Linked DNA regions of Homo sapiens. The protein of the gene in region 1 interacts with the protein of each later gene in a pairwise test. Each region holds a gene or a part of one and is shown in the gene's direction. Other genes may lie near its edges.

The links.
Region 2: the proteins of TRIM69 (region 1) and LARP1B interact in binary tests that used the Homo sapiens proteins (3 or more experiments, as listed by UniProt).
Region 3: the proteins of TRIM69 (region 1) and GLE1 interact in binary tests that used the Homo sapiens proteins (3 or more experiments, as listed by UniProt).
Region 4: the proteins of TRIM69 (region 1) and MID2 interact in binary tests that used the Homo sapiens proteins (3 or more experiments, as listed by UniProt).
Region 5: the proteins of TRIM69 (region 1) and DBH interact in binary tests that used the Homo sapiens proteins (3 or more experiments, as listed by UniProt).
Region 6: the proteins of TRIM69 (region 1) and NUP58 interact in binary tests that used the Homo sapiens proteins (3 or more experiments, as listed by UniProt).
Region 7: the proteins of TRIM69 (region 1) and SF3A3 interact in binary tests that used the Homo sapiens proteins (3 or more experiments, as listed by UniProt).

The regions. Positions count from the first base shown.
Region 1 is NC_000015.10:44,760,528-44,764,027, forward strand, and holds part of TRIM69 (E3 ubiquitin-protein ligase TRIM69), read left to right. Parts: intron 1-3,500.
Region 2 is NC_000004.12:128,123,812-128,127,311, forward strand, and holds part of LARP1B (la-related protein 1B), read left to right. Parts: exon of another isoform or gene 1-58; intron 59-815; coding exon of another isoform or gene 816-884; exon of another isoform or gene 885-1,677; intron 1,678-3,500.
Region 3 is NC_000009.12:128,535,719-128,539,218, forward strand, and holds part of GLE1 (mRNA export factor GLE1), read left to right. Parts: intron 1-636; coding exon 637-766; intron 767-1,108; exon of another isoform or gene 1,109-1,237; intron 1,238-2,267; coding exon 2,268-2,372; intron 2,373-3,500. UniProt on the Homo sapiens protein: Required for the export of mRNAs containing poly(A) tails from the nucleus into the cytoplasm. May be involved in the terminal step of the mRNA transport through the nuclear pore complex (NPC).
Region 4 is NC_000023.11:107,832,366-107,835,865, forward strand, and holds part of MID2 (probable E3 ubiquitin-protein ligase MID2), read left to right. Parts: intron 1-3,500. UniProt on the Homo sapiens protein: E3 ubiquitin ligase that plays a role in microtubule stabilization. Mediates the 'Lys-48'-linked polyubiquitination of LRRK2 to drive its localization to microtubules and its proteasomal degradation in neurons.
Region 5 is NC_000009.12:133,649,863-133,653,362, forward strand, and holds part of DBH (dopamine beta-hydroxylase precursor), read left to right. Parts: intron 1-1,771; coding exon 1,772-1,915; intron 1,916-2,383; coding exon 2,384-2,422; intron 2,423-3,077; coding exon 3,078-3,137; intron 3,138-3,500. UniProt on the Homo sapiens protein: Catalyzes the hydroxylation of dopamine to noradrenaline (also known as norepinephrine), and is thus vital for regulation of these neurotransmitters.
Region 6 is NC_000013.11:25,311,625-25,315,124, forward strand, and holds part of NUP58 (nucleoporin p58/p45), read left to right. Parts: intron 1-1,258; coding exon 1,259-1,408; intron 1,409-1,989; coding exon 1,990-2,127; intron 2,128-3,500. UniProt on the Homo sapiens protein: Component of the nuclear pore complex, a complex required for the trafficking across the nuclear membrane.
Region 7 is NC_000001.11:37,956,475-37,959,022, reverse strand, and holds the end of SF3A3 (splicing factor 3A subunit 3), read left to right. Parts: intron 1-759; coding exon 760-837; 3' UTR 838-2,048; downstream 2,049-2,548. UniProt on the Homo sapiens protein: Component of the 17S U2 SnRNP complex of the spliceosome, a large ribonucleoprotein complex that removes introns from transcribed pre-mRNAs.

The DNA.
Region 1 (3,500 bases):
GGTTATTGATTTAATGAGAAATCACAAATATATCCCTGATTTAATGAAAAATCGCAAATTTTTCCAGGTAATTGACATTGAAGAAAAATCAACTATACTGAGATATAGTTAACATAGAGTAAAATTATCCAATTTTAAGGGCACAATTTGATGAGTTCTGATGTATATATACACTTAGGTAAACCTCTCCATAATCAAAATATAGAAGATTTTTATCACTCCAAAAAGTTCCTACATGCCCCTTTGAAATCAATCTCTTCCTTCTACTCTCAGCCTCTAACATTCACTGACATGTTTTATTTCACTTTAAATGTGTCTTTTCTAAATTTTTGTCTAAGTGATAGCATACATTATGTAGTGTTTTGTGTCTTCTGGTTTTTTTCACTTAGCATAATTTTTTTTTTTTTTGAGATGGAGTCTCGCTCTGTTGCCCAGGCTGGAGTGCAGTGGTGCCATCTCTGCTCACTGCAAGCTCTGCCTCCAGGGTTCATGCCATTCTCCTGCCTCAGCCTCCCGAGTAGCTGGGACTACAGGCGCCTGCCACCATGCCCGGCTAATTTTTTTATATTTTCAGTAGAGACGGGGTTTCACCCTGTTAGCCAGGATGGTCTCGATCTCCTGACCTCGTGATCTGCCCGCCTCAGCCTCCCAAAGTGCTGGGATTACAGGTATGAGCCACTGCGCCAGGCCGCATAATGCTTTTTGAGCACTTATGTTGTTCCATGTATCAATAATCATGATTATTTATTCAGTTTACTTATTCATTTCCCAGTTGATGGACATGGGGTAGTCCATGGTAGTTTTATCCATCCTGCAATTAGTGAAAATCCCAGTTTCTCTATATCCTTTCCAAAACTTGATATTGTCAATCTTTTTAATTTAAACCATTTTATTGAATGTATAGTAGTATCTTATTGTGGTTTTAATTTGTATATCTCTTGTTTTGGTGGGAGGGTGGGACAGAGTCTCACTCTGATGTCCAGGCTAGAGTACAGTGGTGCATCTCAACTCACTGCAACCTCTGCCTCCGAAGCTCAAGTGATTCTTGCGCCTCAGACTCCCCAGTAGCTGGAATTACAGGCGCGCACTGCCATGCCTAGCTAATTTTTGTATTTTTAGTAGAGATGAGGTTTTGCCATGTTGGCCAGGCTGATCTTGAACTCCTGGCCTTAAGTGATCCATCCACCTCAGCCTCCTAAAGTGTTGAAATTACAGGCATGAGCCGTGGTGCCCGGCTGCATATCCCTAATGAGCAATCCTGTTGAGCGTCCTTTCAGGTGCTTCCTTGCCATTCATATATTTTTTTGGTTGTGTTCAAACTTTTGTCTATATTTTTGTTAAATTGTTGTATTATTAAGTTGTAAAGGATACAAATCCTTTATCAGATATATGTTTCTTAAATATTTTTTCTCACTCCATGGCTTGCCTTTTCAATTTATTTTTATTTATTTATTTTTTTGAGATGGAGTCTCACTCTGTCACCCAGGCTGGAGTGTGGTGCAATCTCGGCTCACTGCAAGCTCCGCCTCCCAGGTTCACGCCATTCTCCTGCCTCAGCCTCCCAAATAGCTGGGACTACAGGTGCCCGCCACCACGCCCGGCTAATTTTTTTGCATTTTTAGTAGAGATGGGGTTTCACCATGTTAGCCAGGATGGTCTCGATCACCTGACCTCGTGATCTGCCCGCCTCGGCCTCCCAAAGTACTGGGATTACAGGCGTGAGCCACCGCACCTGGCCATCTCTGGCTAATTTTAGGACTTGCTTTTTGTCACTTGCTTCCATCAATTTGATTATACGTGGTCTTGGTGTGATTTTCTTTGTATTTATTCTGCTTGTGCGTCATTGAGCTGCTTGGATCTAAGGGTTTATAATTTTCATCAAATTTTGAATAATATCAGCTGGTATTTCTTCAAATACTTTTTTACCAACCCCTTTTCTCCTCTCCTTCTTGGAGTCTAATTTTACATATTTTAGACAACTTGATATTGTCAAGTTGTCTCATGTCATCGATATTCAGTACTTTTTTAGCCTTTTTTCACCTCACACTTTATTTTAAATGGTTTCTATTGTTATTCAAGTTCTCATCTTTTCTTCTGCATGGTCTAACCTTCTGTTAATATTGTTCAAGATATTTTCATTTTATATACATTTCATTTCTAGAAGTTTCATTTGGGTCTTTTTATATCTTTCTTATCTCTTCTCACCATGTTCATGCCTTCCTCTACATTCTTGAAAAAATGGAAGACATTTATCCATTTTAATATCCTTGTCTGCTAATTCTATCATCATTGTCATTTCTGGGCCTGATTTTATTGTTTGATTGTTCTCCTGAGAGTCATATTTTCCTGCTGCTTTGTATGGCTAGTAATCTTTTTCTTTTTAATGGGCTTTATTTTTTAGGACACTTTTAGATTTTTTAATTTTACAGAAAAACTGAGAAGATAGTATAGAGTTTTTTATATGCCCCATCCTCACTTTTCTCTATTATTAACATCTTAGATTTAACATTTTTAACAACTAATGAACCAAATTGATACATTATTAACTGAAATCCATAGTTCCTTTAGATTTTCTTAGTTTTTACCTAATGTCATTTTTCTGTTTTAGGTTTCCATCTAAGGTGCCACATTACACTAAGTTGTCATTTTCTTTAGGTGCCCCTTGGCTGTGACAGTTTCTCAGGCTTGCCTTATTTTTTATGACTTAGATAGTTTTGAGGAGTACTGGTCATATATTTTGTAAGGATGCTGCACTATTGCAATTTGTTTGATGTTTTCCTCATAAAATTTGGGTTATTAATTGGGAGAGGAAGACAGTAGCATTAAAGTGTCATTGTCATCACATCACATTAAGTGTTCATACCGTCAACATGATTTATGACTATTGATGTTGACTTTAATCACCTGGCTGAGGAAGTGTCTGTCAGGTTTCTCCACTGTACTCTTTTTCCCTCCTTCTATACTTGTATACTTTGGAAGGCAGTCATTGTGCACAGCCCACGCTTAAGGAGGGGATAGTTATGCTCCCTCTCCCTGAGGGTAGTGTATTAATGTAAATTATTTGAAATTTTGCTGCCCTGGAGATTTGTCTCTTCTGGTTGGTAATTTTTTACTGGATGCCAAATATGATGAATTTCATATTGTTTGTACTGATGAATTCATATTGGTGAATTTTGTATTTGCTGGATTTTGTTGTAGTTCTTTCAGTTCTATTGAATTTAACTCTGGCATGCAGTTAACATGGTATGACATCATTTTGTTCCTTCTGAGGCTTAAATAAAGCCTAGTTAGAGTGGCTCAAGAGCAGCCTTTAATCTAGGGCTAACTTAGCCCATTTTCTAAAGTAATATACCCTTCTGATTACCCTACCTGACGTTGACATATTACGACATTTTTCCATTCTGGTTGGCAAGATTGAAAATTATTCCCAGCCTTGTGTGAGCTCCAGAAATTGTTCAGTCTATTGATTTCTGGAGGTTCTTTCTCTGGCCTTGACGAGT
Region 2 (3,500 bases), on another chromosome or scaffold:
AGGTGATTATTTCCTTAAATTATAGACAATAATTAAAAGCCATGTATTGAGTTCTTGAGGCATGTGCTGATCTTATTCATTAAATATTAACGGAAAGTAATCTTGGCTTATATAACTTTAACCATTATAATTGCAGATATGTCTTACTTTGACCTGATTCTTATGTACATTCCCATCATTTAACTCATCCCCTTTGGTTCTGATTCTGTCTTCTACATGTAGTATCTCATTAGACTTGTACTTTTCCTGTGGGTCTGCTTAAAGGGAGAGAAATCAGTCATTTAACATATACTCATTGAGTGCTTACTATGTGCCAGACACTGCTTAGAAACTGGGCACAGAGTGAGAAGGTAACAAATAGGGTTTCTACATGCCTAGAACCTACAGCTAACTGGGGGAACAGACTTAAAAATAAACCCACAATAAGTACTTAATCACAAATTACAATAAATACTCTAAAAGAAAAAAACAGGATGCTATTTCATTGAGTAGTCAGGGAAGGCCTCTGAGAAAGTCAGTAATAGTGAAATCTGAAGTGGAAGTAGGACATAACCAAGCAAAGAGTAGGGAAACAGTATTCCAGGAAAAGGGAACAGTAAATGTCAAGGATCTGGCAGAAAAGATTTTGGTGTATTTGAGGAACTGGAAAAAAGGTCAGTTTGCCTACGGTATTATATAAAATGTTAATTATAGATGAATAGGCAGGAGTCATCATTTATGCGCCATGTTAAATAATGTGGAGTTTATCTAAAGTTCAAATCCAGTACCTTAGGTTTTGCAAAGGCAGTGTGACATCTAATTTTTATTTTTAATAGATCACTCTGGTTGTTTTGGCACAGAATGGATTGTACAGGGACAAGAGTGGGCAGAAGAAATCCAGTTAACAGGCTGTCCATATAGAAGATGAATTGGTCGGCCAAGACAAACAGGTGGCAGAGGAAATATAGAAGTGAGAAGACCTGTCTCATCTGAGCCTTGAGGAATGATTATATAGGAGTTGTATAGGAAAGTGTGTTGTTGTGGAAGTCAAAAGCTGGCTCTAAGAGAAGAAAATAATCAGGTGTGTCAGCAACTTTACAGGTTGAATTAGATAGGAATGAAAAGTATGCCAAATTGATAGGGCAGTTTAGTACTCATTTTTGACCTCTGCAAAAAGAGTTTTGGTGGATCCAGAAGCTATGTTGAACTGGACCAAAGAGTGAGTAAAGGCTTTATTCTGTTTTTGGCATATATTTACTGCTGAAGACTACTAAAATGATAGGCTTATAGGTAAGAAAATATCTGCTTAAAATCTTTGAAGATATGCTAGGTAAGTTATTATCAGGATAAAACTATACAGAAGTGAAGTACTGAAACTTAGTTTTACCCTTAGGACCCTTTGTAGAAGCTACCCAAAACGGGTAAAAACCATAAACTCAGGGACCATTCAAAACTGTGGATTCCCATAGGATTCCTTTTCCCATTTAATTGGTACCCAAAAGTGCACCAAGATCTCACAGATCACTACTAAATAACTTACTCGTGTAACCAAATACCACCTGTTCCCCAAAAATCTATGGGAGAAAAAAGATACCCCAAAAGAATACACTTACAGTGGAAGAACTAAACTTGCTTCCTACCTGCTCCCCAAGGGACTCTGTAAAGAATATTTTTCTGGCTGGCGCAGTGGCTCACGCCTGTAATCCCAGCACTTCGGGAGGCCGATGTGGGTGGATCACGAGGTCAAGAGATTGAGACCATCTGGCCAACATGATGAAACCCCATCTCTACTAAAAATACAAAAATTAGCTGGACATGGTGGCGCGTGCCTGTAGTCCCAGCTACTCGGGAGGCTGAAGGCAGGAGAATCACTTGAACCCGGGAGGTGGAGGTTGCAGTGAGTGGAGATCACGTCAATGCATTCCAGCCTTGTGACAGAACAAGACTCTAACTCAAAAAACAAAAAACAAAAACAAAAACAAAACAGAATGTTTTTCTGGTTGTGCTGAGCAGAATAGAGAGGAAAAAATTGGGCTAGAAGTTGTATTCATGCAACCCAAGTTCATACTCTGGGTGACTAAAGGAAGCACTAGTTGTAAATTTGATGTGATTGTGGTCTCTTAGTTTCCCAGACACCTAGCATATGAAAATAAAGATTTTTTGTGTATGAAAATATTCACCTTTATCTTAGACCTCCTTTATTCACATTATATTGCAAGGAAAGTTAGCAGCACATAAAGTGAATAATCTAACAAGAAAGTGAGATCTCGCATGTGAGAATGAGCAAAAGTAACAGGCAGCAGAAACATACCTTAAAATAATCTTTTTTTTTTTTTTTTTTTTTTTTTTGAGATGGAGTCTCTCTCCGTCACCCAGGCTGGAGTGCAGTGGCACCATCTCAGCTCACTGCAACCTCCGCCTCCCAGGTTCAAGTGATTCTCCTGCCTCAGCCTCCAAAGTAGCTGGGATTACAGGCGTGTGCCATCACACCTGGCTAATTTTTTATGTTTTTTGTAGAGATGGGGTTTCACCACGTTGGCCAGGCTGGTCTCGAACTCCTGACCTCAAGTGATCTGCTTACCTCGGCTTCCGAAAGTGCTGGGATTACAGGCGTGAGCCACCATGCCTGGCCCCTTAAAATAATTTAGATAGTCAGATTATTAAACAAAATATGCAGTAGCTAGGCTTACTGTGTTTAAGGAAATAAAAATATGTGTAGAGAAGAAGAAATCCTAAAGAATAACGATAGAACTGGAAGTAAAAACAATTATGATTAAAATTAAGAACCAAATCAATTGAAGGGATTAGCAACAGATTAGACAGAATTAGAGAATTAGTCAATTGGAAGACTGTTCCCAAGAATTTATTCAGAAATTTCCACAGAGTAGCAAAGAAATAGAATATATGAAAAGAGGATACAGAATGATTTTCTACAGTCTTTGCTATTGGTTGGTAAGTTTTAATCAAGTTTTGTAATTTAACATCTAGTAGATTTTATTATAAAGCTTTTTATTTGTTTTTGTTTTTTTTTTAAAAAAAGGTAAGCAAGAAACTTGGAATATAGGATAACGGAGAAGGTCTAAAATATACATTTAGTCAGAGTTCCAGAATGAAAGGGTAGAGAGAATGGGGCCAAGTCATTATTATAAGAGGCAATTAGGACCTCTACAGAACTGAGGAGAGGTGTCAGAGTTTAGCCAGAAAAAAAAGAGATTACTTTCAAGAAAGAAGAATCATTAGACAGCTGATAGCTAGTTTCCCAACAGTGACAACCAATAGACATTGGAATGATAGCTTTAATTTGCCAAGGGAAAATAACTATCAACTGATAATTGTAGGCCTTGCAAAAATATCTTTCAGTAAGAGTGTAGAATATGAGAAATGGCCACCAGCAGAGTCTCATGAAAGAAAGTCCCAAAGGGTAGAATAAAAGTGATTTTACCTATCAGAGACACAGAAAGGACTGCAGAGCAAAACAAGTAATAAATACATGAATAAACCTAAGTGAATATTAACTGTAT
Region 3 (3,500 bases), on another chromosome or scaffold:
GCAGAGGCAGAAGAATCGCTTGAACCCGAGAGGCGGAGATTGCCTGAGATCGTGCTATTGCTTTCTAGCCTGGGCGACAAGATGGAAATTCCATCTCAAAAAAAAAAATTAGCCGGCTATGGTGGCATGTGCCTGTGGTCCTAGCTACTCAGGAGGCTGAGGCGGGAGGATCACTTGAACCTGGGTGGTGAAGTTTGCAGTGAGCCTTGATCATACCACTGTACTCCAGCCTGGGTGACAGAGACTCTGTTTCCCAAAAAAAAGCAATTTATCTCTAATTTGTCACCCTTATTTTGGCCTTGTCCCAGTGAATTTTTTCTTATTTCTTTTTTTTGAGACACAGTCTTACTGTTACCCAGGCTGGAGTGCAGTGATGCAATCTTGACTCACTGCAACCTCCACCTCCCAGGTTCAAGCAATTCTCATGCCTCAGCCTCCCAATTAGCTGGGACAAACAGGCATGCACCACCATACCCAGTTAATTTTTGTATTTTTAGTAGAGATGGGGTTTCACCACATTGGCCAGGCTAGTCTTGAACTCCTGGCCTCAAGTGATCTGCCCACCTTGGCCTCCCAAAGTGCTGGGATTACAAGCGTGAGCCACCACACCCGGCCAAATTTTTTCTTCCCGTATAGGATGCTTGGTTACCAAGTAAAGGATTCCAAAGTGGAGCAGCAAGACAACTTTCTAAAACGCATGTCAGGGATGATCCGTCTCTACGCTGCTATCATCCAGCTCCGGTGGCCATATGGAAACCGACAGGAGGTAGGTAAAAGAGGCTTACTGTCAATAATGAGAGGTTAGACCACAGTCCATGTGTATTCCTCCCACAGGAAATGTTGGCCTTCTTTCAGAGAGCCAGTCTAGTTAAAGGATAAACTATATGGCAGTTTCATGGGTATTATGTAGAGGACTGAATGTTGATTATTAGGGAACTTTCTTGGATCACCTGGTACTTTAAAGAGCTGGTTTTGTAACAGAGTCTACCAGAGGAGAGTCTGTTATAAATCAGTCATTAAGGTTAGAAGATTTTCTTACAAGAGGAATGAGCAAGAAATTGTCATCTTAGAACTAGTTGAGACCTTAGAAGCCATCTAGATCACATACCTTACTTCACAGATGGACAGAACAAGCTCAGAAAGCTGCAGCTGGGGTTCAGGGCTTTGACTTGCCAGCCCAATTAATTTCTCAGGGAATACAGATTAGAAGGACAGAGAAATTAATAGTTACGGAGACCTAAAGAGAAAAAATAGAAGTTGATTAAATCCAAGTTTTTATTGTATGCCTGCTGTGTCCCAGGTTCTGTGCTAAAGGTACCAAGAATAATAAATAAAATGTCAATAAGGCTAATTGTTACCCTATGGAATGCCTGAAACTGAAGCTGACACATGCATATTGAAGGGAGCCTATAAAGAATGTGTGGGAACCAATGTATTGAAACATTAAAAAATAGAAGGCGAGGTAGCTTCAGGCCTGATATCCCAGCACTTTGGGAGGCTGAGGTGGGTGGATCACCTAAGGTCAGGAGTTCAAGACCAGCCTGGCCAACATGGTGAAACCCCGTCTCTACTAAAAATACAAAAATTAGCTGGGCATGGTGGTGGGCACCTGTAATTCCAGCTACTTGGGAGGCTGAGGCACGAGAATCGCTTTAACCCAGGAGGCAGAGGTGGCAATGAGCCGAGATCACGCCATTGCACTCCAGCCTGGGCAACAAGAGCAAAACTCTCCCTCAAAAAAAAAAAAAAAAAAAAAAAAAGAATGTGTGGGAACCAATGTACTGAAACATTTAAATACAGAAGGCTGGGCGAGGTAGATTCATGCCTGTAATCCCAGCCCTTTAGGAAGCCGAGACAGGTGGGTCATTTGACTCCAGGAGTTTGAGACCAGCCTGGGCAACAAGGTGAAACCATGTCTCTAAATAAAATACAAAAAAATTAGCTGAGCACGGTGGCATGTGCATGCCTGTAGTCCCAGCTACTTGGGAGACTGAAGTGGAAGAATCACTTGAGCCCAGGAGGTGAAGGCTGCAGTGATCCATGATCGCACTATAGCACTCCAACCTGGACAACAAAGTGAGACCCTGTCTCAAAAAAATAAAAGAAAAACAGAATTTGTTTAGTTTGTGTTATTTCTGCCCTGTGGCAGGTGCTAGGGCTGGATGATCTGGGGTTCATTTCCACTTGGTAATGGCTGGATGATACACTGGGAGTTTAGATTTCTAAACAAAATGAGATCAATGATAACCAAGCTTCTCTACTCCCAGATTCACCCTCATGGCTTAAATCATGGATGGCGCTGGTTGGCACAGATCTTAAACATGGAGCCCTTGTCAGATGTGACAGCCACCCTCCTCTTTGACTTCCTGGAGGTACGTAACTCAGTTATCACACAAGAGAAGGCCAGTGGTTGAGGTAGCCTTGATCCACTGGGTGACATGAATGGGGAAACAGCATAGCATTTGGGCCTGATAGTAAAACAGCATGAGGTTCCAGTGTCATACATTTTTCCCAAGCTGTAGACCAACCTTGCTTTCACTTTTACTCCATACTATATTTACTTGGCTTCTCTGGATTTTTTTCATTATAAAGAACAGAAAATTGTACATTCTAGCAAAAGTGAAAAGAGGAATTTGTTTTAGGGATATAGAAGGGACTCCCAGGCCGGGTGCGGTGGATCACACCTGTAATCCCAGCACTTTGGGAGGCCAAGGTGGGCGGATGACATGGGGTCAGGAGTTCGAGCCCAGCTGGTCAGTATATTGAAACCCTGTCTGTACTAAAAATACAAATAAAGGCCGGGCACGGTGGCTCACGCCTGTAATCCCAGCACTTTGGGAGGCCGAGGTGGTTGGATTACCTGAAGTCATGAGTTCAAGACGAGCCTGTCCAACATGGTGAAACCCCGTCTCTACTAAAAATAAAAAATCAGCCGGGTGTGATGGTGCACACCTGTCATCCCAGCTACCGAGGAGGCTGAGGCAGGAGAATCGCTTGAACAGGATCTCACTCTGTCAGCCAGGCTGGAGTGCATTAGTGTGATCATAGCTCACTGTAGCCTCAAACTCTTGGGCTCAAGCGATCCTCCCACCTAACCCTGCCAAAGTGTTGAGATTACAGGAGTGAGCCATTGCACTCAGCCAAGAAGACACTTCTTATAGAAGAAAGCCTTGGGGTACATGCCATAACAAATCTGGAACCATTTGATCTATAGTGCCAATAGTTCCTAGTTACCTTAATAGCTCCTGACGTCAGCCAGGTGCAGTGGCTGACAGCCTTTGGGAGGCCAAGGCAGGCGGATCACTTGAGCTCTGGAGTTCAAGACCAGCCAGGGCAATATGGTGAAACCCTATATCTACCAAAAAAATACAAAAATTAGTGGTGTGTGCCTGTGGTCCCAGTTACTGAGGAGGCTGAGGTTGGAGGATCACCTGAGCCCAGGGAGGTTGAGGCTACAGTGAGCTGTGATCATGCCAGTGTCCTCTAGCCTGGGCGACAGA
Region 4 (3,500 bases), on another chromosome or scaffold:
GTGATTGTCTGCCATTATGTCAACCATGTGTTTGGGATGAATTTCCAAACATTTTTGGCTTTTCTTAATAACTTGCTTTGTTTCTATAATCTATGAATGTATGATGAGAATACCTGTATTTGTAAAGTAAACTAATACTTTTATTTTATCCTCGTCTGATCCTCACAATAGCCCGTGAGATGGGCAGGGCAGGTATTTTTCATCTGATAGATGAAAAAGCTGTGGCCCAAAGAGTTTAAATGTACCTAGGATTGCTCGGCTAATTTGGTTTAGATCCAGGACTACAACCAGGCTGTATTATGAGGGTCAAATGAGATAATGGCTTTGAAATAATTTGAAAAGTATAAATTGATATACAAATGTAAGGTGGCTATTATCAATTATTATTACTGACCACCTAGCCTCTTCTGTCTAGGTTTCTATTTTCAGTTCTTATCCTATAGTGTGTGAATTCGATGCATTGGTTGCCTTTTGTGTTCCAAAATGATCTGCTTTGAGCTTCAAGGGGTTCTTTTCTAATCATGGTGTTCTAGAATTTGGATTTTGGTTTCTTTTACAGCCCCCAAATATATTCTCATTAGTTTATATTCCCATGGGACTCTTCTCCCCTTTAGTTGTCCTCTGGAACATCCATTATGTCTTTTTTGAGATACAACAGACAAAAACCACTGTACTTTGAGCATCTTAGTAATGCATTTTGTTTATGTCCTGCTCCAGTGGCTGTGATGTCTATCACTTGTTAGCCTTCCTAGTCACACTAATAAATAAAAGTTGTGTTTTTAGGAGCTAGTTTACAATAATCCAAGCTGTCTTTTTATGTGGTAACAGATAGCAAGAGCTCTATAATAATCGGATGTCAGAGCTGGAAAGCATCTTAAAGAGATCGTCTGGTGATTCTAGTTTAGCTTGAACATTTTACAGTTGAGGAAACATCAGACTAGGCCAGGACTCATTTGCTCCTTACCCCAAGGCAGGGAGACAGTTTCTAATACTTTAAGGAAGAACTCATGGGACATTAATTTTAATATCCTGAAGAATGTTTATTTTATATATATATATATATATTTTTTTTAAAAACCTACAGCTCAGCTCATTTCTCAATCTACAGCCCAGAGATCAGGCTTGGTTTCACACTCATGGATTTTCTATGAAGGGAATACTATAACTCCTCAGGAAGGTAGTGGGAGCTCAGATACATGCTTTGCAGACCCGGAAGAAAAAAAATTAGATGGAATAATAATTGTTAATTAAGTGGGCATTTAATTATGCTCAAGTAACCTTTGAAATAATAGAATTATGCAAAGTACAGATCACGACTTCTCTCTTGATCAGAGTTAGCTAAAGGCTAGATTTGGAGGACAATGCTGAAATCAGTCTTTTATTTCATAAGTGTAGGATGCATTATTTTTACGTTTTTGAAATTTATTTTTTATTTTTATTTATTTTGAGACAAAGTCTCATGCTGTCACCCAGGATGGAATACAGTGGCACAATTACGGCTTACTGCAGCTTCGACCTGCTGGACTCAAGCGATTTTCCCACCTCAGCCTCTCAAGTAGCTGGGACTACAGGTGCATGCCACCACACCCCACTAATTTTTGTATATTTTGTAGATATGGGGTCTTGCCATGTTGCCCTGGCTGGTCTCGAATTCCTAGGCTCAAGCAATCTGCCTGCCTCTGCCTCCCAAAGTGCTGGGACTACAGGTGTGAGTCACCACGCCAGACCCATTATTTTTTATCTTAATCACCTTCATCAAAACTCCTTTTGTATTTCTACCCAGTTATACAGCCCAATGGTACCTTCTTCTAGTTTATGCTCATCGACTTCTTTTTTCAGAGGTCTCACCCTGTAGTAAGGCACAAGGTAAAGAAAAGCCATACAGAAACAAACATACATATCTGACTATATATGGCAGTAACTAAATGGTTTGGAAGGGAACTAATCAGGGTGTGTGGATGTGGACATTTGTTTCTTAATATGGCAATTGATCGTGCCCTCTCAGGTATTTCATCAATGCGTTTTTATGACAAATTGTAAAAACTTTCAAGATTACCTGTCATTGAGTTGCACCCTATCAGATTCACATCCTGTCTTCATCCTTAGCATACTCTCTAACTCTGTATAGATTAGTGATTCACAAACTTTTTGAAATTGCAACAGTTTGCCATTGTTTAATTTTTGTCATGCCACTTCCTCCTGCTAAAAGTATTTCATGATAATAGGAGTCAAATATTTTTCAGGAGTCACTTATATACTTTTTAAAGTGAATAAAAATTGGGAGCTGAGAATTTTGTAACACTCATTGATCACTAGAGATATCCCAGGGTATTGCAAAACCTAGACAGGGAATCATTGACCTAGAAAAACAATTGAAAGGAACAAGCAATCCAATAGAATTTATAAATACTATATAATCACACAGTTGTTAGTATAGTATAGTGATTTGCTGTTTACACCCTGGAGTCAGACAGACCTGGGATTGAATCTCTTCTTTAAAAAAATTAGATGTAATTCACATGCCATAATATTCACTATTTTAAAGTATACAATTCAGTGGTTTTTGGTATCTTCACAAAGTTGTGCAATCATCGTCACTATCTAATTTTAGAACCTTTTCATCATCCCAGAAAGTAACTCCATATTTGTTAGCAATCACTCCTCATCCCCCATCCTCCCCTGCCCTGCTCCTGGCAACCATTAATCTACTTTCTGTTCCTTTGGGTTTGCCTATTCTGGATATTTCATAAAAAAGGAATCATACACAAAAGGAGCCTTTTGTGACTGGCTTCTTTTACTTACTGTTTTCAAAGATCATCCATGTTGAAGTATGTATCAGAACTTCATTCCTTTTTATAGCCAAGTAATATTCCACTGTGTCTATCCTTTCATCAGTTGATGGACATTTGGGCTTTTCCCTTTTGGCTACTATGAAGACTGCTGCTATGAACATTTGTGTACAAGTTTTTGAGTGAACACATTTTCCATTCTTTTGGGTATATACCTAGGAGTGGAATTATATGGTAACTCTACATTTAGCCTTTTGAGGAACTGTCGAACTATTTCCCAAAAGCAGCTGCACCATTTTTTATTTCTACCTGCAATGTATGAGGGTTCTAACTTCTCCAAATCCTGGCTGACGTGCTGTTTTCCGGTTTTTGTTTGTTTTGTTTTATTATATTTTAGCCTTCTTAGTGTGAAGTAGTATCTCAATGTGGTTTTGATTTGCATTTTCCTACTGGCTAATTATGTTGAGCACCTTTTCATGTGATTATTGGCCATTTGTATATCTTTGGAAAAAATCTATTGAAATCCTTTGCCTACTATTAAATTGAGTTACTCATCTTTTTTAATCTTGAGTTGTAAGAGTACATTTCTAGAGACTAGACCTATATCAGATATAATAATATGATTTGCAAATATTTGCGCCTAGTCTGTGGGTTGTCTTTTTACTTCATTGATGGTGCTTTTTGCAGCACTCAAATTTTAAATTTTGATAA
Region 5 (3,500 bases), on another chromosome or scaffold:
ATACAGACCCGCCTCCCCTTGCCAGAGTCCTCCACTACCTTAAGTAACAGAATGAGAATGTTCAGTCTTGTCTCTCCTTTGGCAGATAAAAGAGGGGCACAAATTCTGCAGCCAAAATCTGGCCTAGTCTAGCTATCCCAGTGAAATAGGCCAAGACAAGAGTGCTGCTTTGGACCAGAGTGCCCAGAAGAGCATAGTCCTCCCTCCACCTGGCCGACACCTGGCATCTCTGGGCCAGGGTCGGCCTCTGGGGGCCAAAGGGGCATTGGGACCCTTTGGGCTCCCAGGCCTGGCACACAGTGGCCTCTCAAGCCATTGCAAGGGACACAAAGCTATAGGCGACGGCAAGGTCAGGGCGGCCGCTGCTTGGGAGCGAGAGGGAAGGAGCAAAAGTGAGTCCTAAAAAGCTCGGCCATCTGGGACCTTCAGGGATGGGGCTGTCGGGACCTTGAGCTCTGGGACCTGCTGACTGCATGAACAAACTGGGCAGAGCCTGGCAGCGGGTGGGCAAAAGGACAACTGACTCACAAAGAAAATGCTCGATTTCAGGAAAGACGTGTTCTTTTCTTTCCTTCTTTCCTTCTTTTCTTTCCTTTCTTTTCTTTTTCTTTCTTTTTCTTTTTCTTTCTTTTCTTTCCTTTCTTTCTTTCCTTCCTTCCTTCCTTCTCTTTTCTTTCTTCCTTCCTTTCTTTTTTTTTTTTTTTGATGGAGTTTCGCTCCTGTTGCCCAGGCTGCAGTGCAATGGCACAATCTTGGCTCACTGCAACCTCTGCCTCCCGGGTTCAAGTGATTCTCCTGTCTCAGCCTCCTGAGTAGCTGGGATTACAGGCACGTGCCACCATGCCCGGCCAATTTTTGTATTTTTAGTAGAGGCGGGGTTTTACCATGTTGGCCAGACTATTCTCAAACTCCTTACCTCAAATGATCCATGTGCCTCAGCCTCCCAAAGTGCTGGGATTACAAGCATGAGCCACCATGCCCAGCCATGGAAATGCATTTTCTATCTAAAAAAAGTTAGCATTAGGTTAGAGAAAACTTTCGTTCTCTGGAAGATTCTCTCATGCCCCAGTGATGGCATAAGACCTCTTGAGATGAGGGCTGCCATCTTTTCTGTGAGGCCGGCCTGCAGCCTCAGAGTGTCCAGCTGCAGCACCCCATGGTCACATCCATCTTGGTCCTGGATGACCACCTTCCAGTTGTAGCTACAGCTCCCAGCTGTAGCACGGGGTGATGCTGAGCACAGGGAGAATGCAGCCTTGGCTGCTTTGAAGCTGAAAGGAAGCCACAACGCAGGGCAGCTGAAGGTCCTGCTCGGCCCACCACGTAGGGGACCTGCCAAGTACCACCTTCTGCCACTTGCTTTTCCCTGGACAGCAAGCTCTTCAGCACAGAGGCCACGCGCTGCTCAGCTTGGTGGCTTTGCCACACCCTGTCCACGGGAGGCTCGCCTTAAAGGCCTGTTGACTGAGTGAAGATGAACCTGTCAGGCTTCAGGGGCTCAGGAGAGGATGAAGGACTCGGAAAGAAAGTCGCTCCTGAGTGGGACTAGGGGCTGCTTCTTTGGGAGCTGGGGGCTGTTGCGGCCCCCTCGCTCTTCCCCGTGAGGTTTCTGATGGTGGCTCTAACCTGGCCGGGGAGAAAGACCTAGAAAATGCAAGTGTTCCAGGGAAGCAAACTGCCCAGGGTGGCTGCTCCCTACCGGGTCCTGGCCATGGACGGGAGGGTCCCCTCGGGGGTCAGGCCCTGACACTGCAGCCCCCCGACCCCACAGGCACTGCCTCCCTCCGGGATCCACATCTTCGCCTCTCAGCTCCACACACACCTGACTGGGAGAAAGGTGGTCACAGTGCTGGTCCGGGACGGCCGGGAGTGGGAGATCGTGAACCAGGACAATCACTACAGCCCTCACTTCCAGGTAGGAACCTGCACCCCACCCCTGCCCCGCCCCCACACCCTGCCACCACACGACCTCCTGGGTCTACTGTTTCCTGACACCATAGGGATGGCTCCAGGCTGGCTTCTTTTTCCTGGGCCAGCCCCACCCGCCCCCCACCCATGTGGCCTGTGCTCCCCACTTGGGTGTCTGGTGTCTGATCGTAGGGAGGCCTCTGGCACATGGCAGATGGTGGTGGGATTCGGGAGACCCAGGCGGCCCTCTGGGAACATCAATCTTGGTCTTGGATAACCACCTTCTGGTTTGAATCTAATGCCCTCCCTGGCCAGAAGCCACACTTAGCGGGCTCTGGCTTCCACTGTAGAGGCTGGGGCAAAATGGACACCCCCAGAGGTCAGGGAGGCCTGAGGGAGGACACAGTGGCCGGGGGTCTGGTCTGCAGCTCTCTGAGGTCTCCTCTCCCCCACCCCTCGGCTCTGCCTGCCCCAGGAGATCCGCATGTTGAAGAAGGTCGTGTCGGTCCATCCGGTGAGTGCCCAGCGGGAAGGCTGTCCCACTCACTGCCACCAGCTGGGGTGGCTGAGAGGGCTGGGGGTGCCACCAGAAGGAGAGGGACACAGAAAGTGATAGGGGGAGGGAGAGCCATCCAGGGCAGGGGGAGGGTGCCTGTGGGTGGCTCTGGGCTGGGCTACCTCATGGGGAGACTCACTCAGGAGTTCATGGAGAGACGTTGGAAAGAGTGGAGCAGACAGGACACTCCCAGGGGACGCGTGTCCTCAGTCTGATGGGCCGACCACAAACCCGAGAGTGTTTGGGGGAGATGAGGGCACTAAGGCAGGCAGTGGAGCCCTGATCCCACAGAGGGCCAAGCCCAGGCCTCGGTGGGGACTTGCCCAAGTCCTTTGAGATGTGTCATGGCCCACCAGCTGCACCCCCACTGGCCTGGGCCCTGGCCCTGTTGTGACCCACTGGGTCACAGGAGCTGATGGTTTATAACTTGCTCGGGAACACTCAGCCTGTGACCTTCGCACATGAATCTGCTGGGCTCCTTGTAGTGGACGACAGGGACTGTACCCCAGAGGTGCCGTGGCATGCACAGTGGCGTGGTCCTATGGGGGCGAGGCCTCCAGCACCTGCCAACGCCAGGTGGCAGGTGCTGATGGTCACATTGGCTTTTCCTCAGGGAGATGTGCTCATCACCTCCTGCACGTACAACACAGAAGACCGGGAGCTGGCCACAGTGGTAAGTCACCCCCGCTTCCCCCTGCACCTGCCCAGGGCGAGTGTTCAGCCTGAGCCATCTGAGGAAGGATGACAGGTCTTGACTCCTCACTTAGGGCATGGGCTCGTCCCCTCAATAAGCCAGTCGTTCTCAGCTCCCTGAACCACAGTGGCAGCATCACCAGGGAGCTTGGGATGAATGCAACCTCCTGGGTGCCACCCCAGGCCCACTGAGTCAGAGACACAGGCGGTGGCATCGGGCAATCCATGTTTTAACAAGCTCCCAGCGGATGTTGACCCCTGCTCAAGGTTGAGAAGCACTCACACCAAGAAGCTTCTCAGCACCCGGGGCTGGTGTGGGGAGAAGCTGTAGGACAAGAGGTTG
Region 6 (3,500 bases), on another chromosome or scaffold:
TTGGCTTCCCAAAGTGCTGGGATTACAGACGTGAGCCACGGCACCTGTCTTTTTTTTTTTTTTTTTTTTTAAGGTAACCAAGATAATTTTAAGAATAGATTAGAGGTTAGAAGAGACTGATACCAGAGAAATAAATGCTGTTGTAGTAGTTCTTAAGAGAGATATGGCCTAAGCTAAGGTTTTTAAGGATGCTTGTAGTACAGGATATTTCTGAAGTAGGATCGACAGGATTTGTAACTAATGGAGTACAGGAGAAGGAAAGGATGTCAAGGATGACTGGTTTCTGGCTTAAGCAATTGAACTGAGCAAGGTTGGAGATATAGCAAAAAATGTTTGTGGTGAGATATGTAGGAGGCCAAAGGGACATCAAGATAGAACTAGACAATGAGGACTTAGGTAAATGTCAGTTTAGACTTAATCACCTGTAGGAGAAATGATGAAAGTGGGTGTGTCATTGGGGAAGTAAGGAGGTAGGAATGGAACTCTAGGAAGTGTCAGTTAAGACATGAACAGAGGAAAGAGAGCTACAGAAAAAAAGGACTGAAAAGGAATAGGGAGACAGCTGGGGGCTGACAGAGACACAAGGGCCAGAAGAAAGGAATAGAGAATGGTTATTGATAGAGTATTAGAGAGGAGGGACCATTTTTCTGCTGAGAGGGAAAGGAGGAGGATAAATGCTGCATTAGAGGTAAATCTAGGAGTAGAATAAAAATTGATATGTTACATCGATTGGATTTTCTTTTCTGTTTTTTTATTTTTTGAGACAGAGTCTCACTCTTGTCTCCCAGGCTGGAGTGCAGTGGCACGATTTCAGCTCACTGCAACCTCCCCCTCCCAGGTTCAAGTGACTCTCGTACCTCAGCCTCCCGAGTAGCTGGGGTTACAAGTGTGCACCACCACATTGAGCTAATTTTTGTATTTTAGCTAGAGGCAGGGTTTCACCGTGTTGGCCAGGCTGGTCTTGAACTCCTGACCTCAAGCAATCTGCCCATCTTGGCCTCCCAAAGTTTTGGGATCACAGGCGTGAGCCACTGTACCTGGCCATTCTTTTGTTTTTCTTAAAGAGCCATCTTTTTTGTGTTCACCATGGTTTAGTCTCAACTTTTACATATTTTCTCTCACAGATACACCCTTCTTCTATTGGCAAAAGGTAGTATCATGAACTTTTAAGGATCCTTATTGAAACCAGTATAATAGAACACTTACAGGTAAAGTAGGATTTTTGTTTGTTTGTTTATTCATTTATTTATTTAAATAGGAACGCCAGCCACTACATCTGCAGCTACAACAGGCTTCAGTTTAGGATTCAATAAACCTGCAGCATCTGCCACACCATTTGCTCTACCTATTACCTCTACCTCAGCTAGCGGTCTGACTCTTTCGTCTGCTCTGACATCAACTCCAGCAGGTGAGGCAGAATGAAAAACCGTTGCATTTAATGGTTAAATTTCAATTTTATCTGGTTAGAGAACATAGATAGTCACCTTACTACAGAAATTATTGATTTATAAAGAAGAAAATTCAGCTTTGAGCATTGAAGCAGGAGAGGCTGTCTTGATGTCCCTATTTAGAGAGCAAAGCAGGGGAGAGGGCTAGAGAGGTAAAATGTAAAGCTGTTAATATTGACTTTGTTTTGAAGGAGGCATTTAGTGACAGGGGAAGACAAAGACTTGGCATAAACCTTGCCTGGCTTATGATTCATTTAATATGAAGGTGAAGTTGGTGGCCTGGGTTGAAGACAATATTGCTATCTAGAATCAGTTACCTGGTACCATTCTAATACTCCTCAAAGCCCTTATTTCTGTCGCAGATTTTTGCTTTGAAGCTGCTATTTCTCTTTATTCTTAAGTATGTAATTTTTAGCAAGTAGTTCTTCCAAAGAGCCAATTTTATCATGGATGTCAGTTTTTAAAAACATCGTATTTGTATTTTTCTATGGTGCTGTTAAATAAGTTGCCTTTTGAAAGCTTACTATCTCTCTTTTTATAGCATCCACAGGATTTACTCTAAATAATTTGGGTGGGACAACAGCCACAACTACAACTGCATCAACAGGCCTCTCTTTAGGGGGAGCCTTAGCTGGTTTGGGAGGTTCACTTTTCCAGAGTACAAACACAGGAACATCAGGTAATTGATGGTATTTATTCTCCAGAATAGTAAATATTTATATTTAAATGTACTTATTTTTATTTTAGTACTTTGAGCAGGTCACTTTTTAATCTGCATATTTTCCTTTAAATATGAAAACTAAATTATAAAATGATGGTTTTCATACATAATTGGATGTATTAACCGTATTTTATTTATTTATTTATTTATTTTGAGATGGAGTCTTGCTCTGTCACCCAGGCTGGAGTGCAGTGGCGTGATCTTGGTTCACTGTAACCTCCACCTCCAGGGTTCAAGAGAGATTCTCCTGCCTCAGCCTCCTGAGTAGCTGGGATTACAGGTGTGTGCCAGCACACCTGGCTTATTTTTGTATTTTTAGTAGAGATGAGGGGGTTCACCATGTTGGCCAAGCTGGTCTCAAACTTCTGACCTCAAGTGATCCGGCTGCCTTGGCCTCCCAAAGTGCTGAGATTACAGGCGTAAGCCACCGCACCCAGCCTATTAGCCATATTTTAGAAATACATTTTCCTCTTTCTCAATATTGACTAACCAGATAAGGAAACAAAGAAGAGCCTGTTTAAGGAGTCAGTAAACTGATCTAGAGATAACATCTCTTCTAAAAAGAACAAAAATTGTATTAGCTCAGTAATGCATGGTCTTATAAAAGTATAGATTTATTAGGCTGGACACGGTGGCTCACACCTGTAATCCCAGCACTTTGGGAGGCCAAGGCAGGTGGGTCATCTGAGGTCAGGAGTTCGAGACCAGCCTGACCAACATGGTGAAACCGCATCTCTACTAAAAATACAAAATTAGCTGGGCATGGTGATGCATGCCTGTAATCCAAGCTGTTTGGGAGGCTGAGGCAGGACAATCACTTGAACCTGGGAGGCAGAGGTTGCAGTGAGCCGAGATCATGCCATTGCACTCCAGCCTGGGCAACAAGAGCGAAACTCCATCTCAAAAACAATAATAACAATAAAAAAGAAATACAGATTTATCAACACAAGATGCTTGAAATTTTGCGCTTGACTCACAAGTGTACGTTAATGACTTATGATTAACCGTAGTCTGGTCCTTTTTATTCCTTTTGTCAGTGAGGGAAGATGTAAATAAGCAAATGAATTCTAATACTTTTTTTTAAGTTTTGTGAAACGAACTTGGGAGTATGAAATTATATTCAATACATGTTATATTCAAATGTTATAAATTCACACTAGATTATCTTAAAAGTATGTAGTTCCAAAGTGTGTTTGTAAGACAAGATGTATTCACCTGAAAATACACCAACTGAAACTGCTTTTGTAGAGAGGGTTTAAAAGCCCTCTGTAACAAAACCCCTTTATAACAAGTGAAGATTGAGTGCCTACATACTGAATTGATATATGTTC
Region 7 (2,548 bases), on another chromosome or scaffold:
TTATAGACTAAAATGCCGAGACTCTGTATCATGTATTAGATCTCCTTTGAGGAAAGCATCTAATGAGAGATGATACTCTCATAGCGACAGGGAGATGTCCTTGTTGGTCTTATGATGGTCATCCCAAGCAGCAGGTTTCAGAGATCAAGAATGACATGTATGTAAGGAATGGTACTGACTCACTCCAAGTCCCATAGTAACTGACAATAGCCTCCCTTTTTTTGAGTCAGTGGTTTTCAGTATTTTTTTTCTTTTTGGCAGCAAAACTCTCTTCCACTTGTAATATAGTACTCTGATATATAAAATAGAATCAAGCAGAATTGCCCTGGACATGGGGAAGCTCAGACTTCCTGGCTTCCCTTTCAACCCCTGCAATGGCCTCTGAGCAGAATCCTGGGATTCTTGGGAACCATTTGAAAACTGCTGTTGTAGGTCAGCCTTTCTCAACCAGGGTTCCCCATCTTAAACATAGAGAGCTAAATAAACTATTTTCTCAGATACTCTAATGATGGGTCATGACTGATATCATTCTAGATGTCTACGAGAGAAGTTAATTCATTGCACACGGTGGCTGCTTTGGGGCAGTGGGACTTAATTCTCTTGTGGAACCCCAGTTGAGAAAGGCTTAGATGAATGCCAATCTTAGTGTACCAGAGTATGCCATGGAATCAGGCCAGGATGAGCTCAGGTACTTAGAGATTGGTTCCAAACATTTCTTTTAGGAGAGCTGTCTAACAAAGTGTACCCCTTCCTTTTCAGGAAGAATATGAAGACTCAAGTGGGAATGTTGTGAATAAGAAGACATACGAGGATCTGAAAAGACAAGGACTGCTCTAGTGTTCAGGGATGTAGCTCAGCTTTTGGGCTAGCCCAGGCTTCCCTAAGATCTGCTTTTTCTATTTCTCCCAACCAAATCCTCTTAAAGACCCTTTGCTATGTAGTCTCATGGTCTAGCATGCATCTTGTAGAAACAAGGCATGCTGGCAGATTGCAGGGTTGAGATGTGTTTTATCTGTTTTATATTTTAAAAGATTCTGCCAGAAAATAAAACCAGACCTTGTTCTAAAGCCCAGGGTTATGGACCAACTCAGTGCTTCAGGTCTTAACGCCTCCATACCTCTTCCTCACCAACTTTACTAGTAGCTGAGATTTAATGGGCACCTATTATGCTACATATCATGTTAGGTAAATCTGACCTGACCTCTTTCCCCACCCTCCTTTGTTGCTGCTTCCCTGAATGAGTATTACCCCAGGATGAGGTCTGCCATCAGCTTAGTTAGCCATTGATGCAAATACTAGGGAAAGACTAGGAGGATGAGCCAGGGTTGCTACTAAGGACTAAGTGTCGCACCAAGGTTTGCCTTTTGTATTTGCATAAAGAAAGGAGTTGGAGCTGGGTGCAGTGGCTTGTGCCTGTAGTCCCAGCTACTTGGGAGGCTGAGGCAGGAGGGTTGCTTGAGACTAGCCTAGGTAACATAGTGAGACCCTGTCTCATTAAAAAAAAAAAAAAGGCATGGTGGCACGCACTGTAGTCCCAGCTACTCAGGAGACTGAGGCTAGAAGATCCTTTGAACCTAGGAGTTTGAGACCAGCCTGGGCGATATAGTGAGGCCCCATCTCAAAAAAAAAAAAAGGGGGGGGGGGGGGAGTTGGGCTGTGTTGGAATGGGCCTGCAGCCCAACAAACAAGGGAACTAGGACCGACAGTGACTTCACCAGCTTGCTAGGTCAGAATGAGAGACTGGTGGGTCTGTCTACCTGTTTCTTCTACAAGATCCCTATTTGACTGTAAAAGTAGCTAATACTCACATGTTCTCCAATCCCAGGTAGCCATGGTAGAGTTGGGTAGAGTTGAGCAGCTGCCCCAGGATCCAAATGTGGTGTCTGAAATGGAAAGAACTAAGGCAACCAGGAAGGCACTGATCTGCCTTATAAGCACAGTCATCTGAAAGTCAGGCCTGCTGCAGGACAGGATCCCCCAGAGACCCCATTTGCCTCTCAACACTCAGACCTTCAACTGTTTTTTAATAAATCTACTTTTTAAAAAAATGTTAATCTTTTTCTTTATATTACACATTTATATCTTATTTTTCTAAAAACCTACCAAGAACCAGTGCCGCACTCATCCCATGCAGAGGCAGGCTGGCTAATATATCTACTTTTAAAAATTCCAACTCAGGCCATGCGCAGTAGCTGATGCCTGTAATCCAAACACTTTGGGAGGCCGAGGGCAGCAAATTACTTGAGGTCAGGAGTTGGAGACCAGCCTGGCCAACATGGCGAAACCCTGTCTCTACTAAAAATACAAAAATTAGCCAGGCGTGATGGCATGCACCTGTAGTCCCAGGTACTCAGGAGACTGAGGCAGGAGGATCACTTGAACCCAGGAGGCGAAGGTTGCCATGAGCCGAGATCACGCCACTGCACTCCAGCCTGGGTGACAGCGAGACTCCGTCTCAAAAAAAAAAAAAAAAAAATCCCAACTTGAATTAGCCTTCTGCCTCACACCAATCTTTTGCCCTGGTTATTTCCATGGCAGTAAAGTTTCA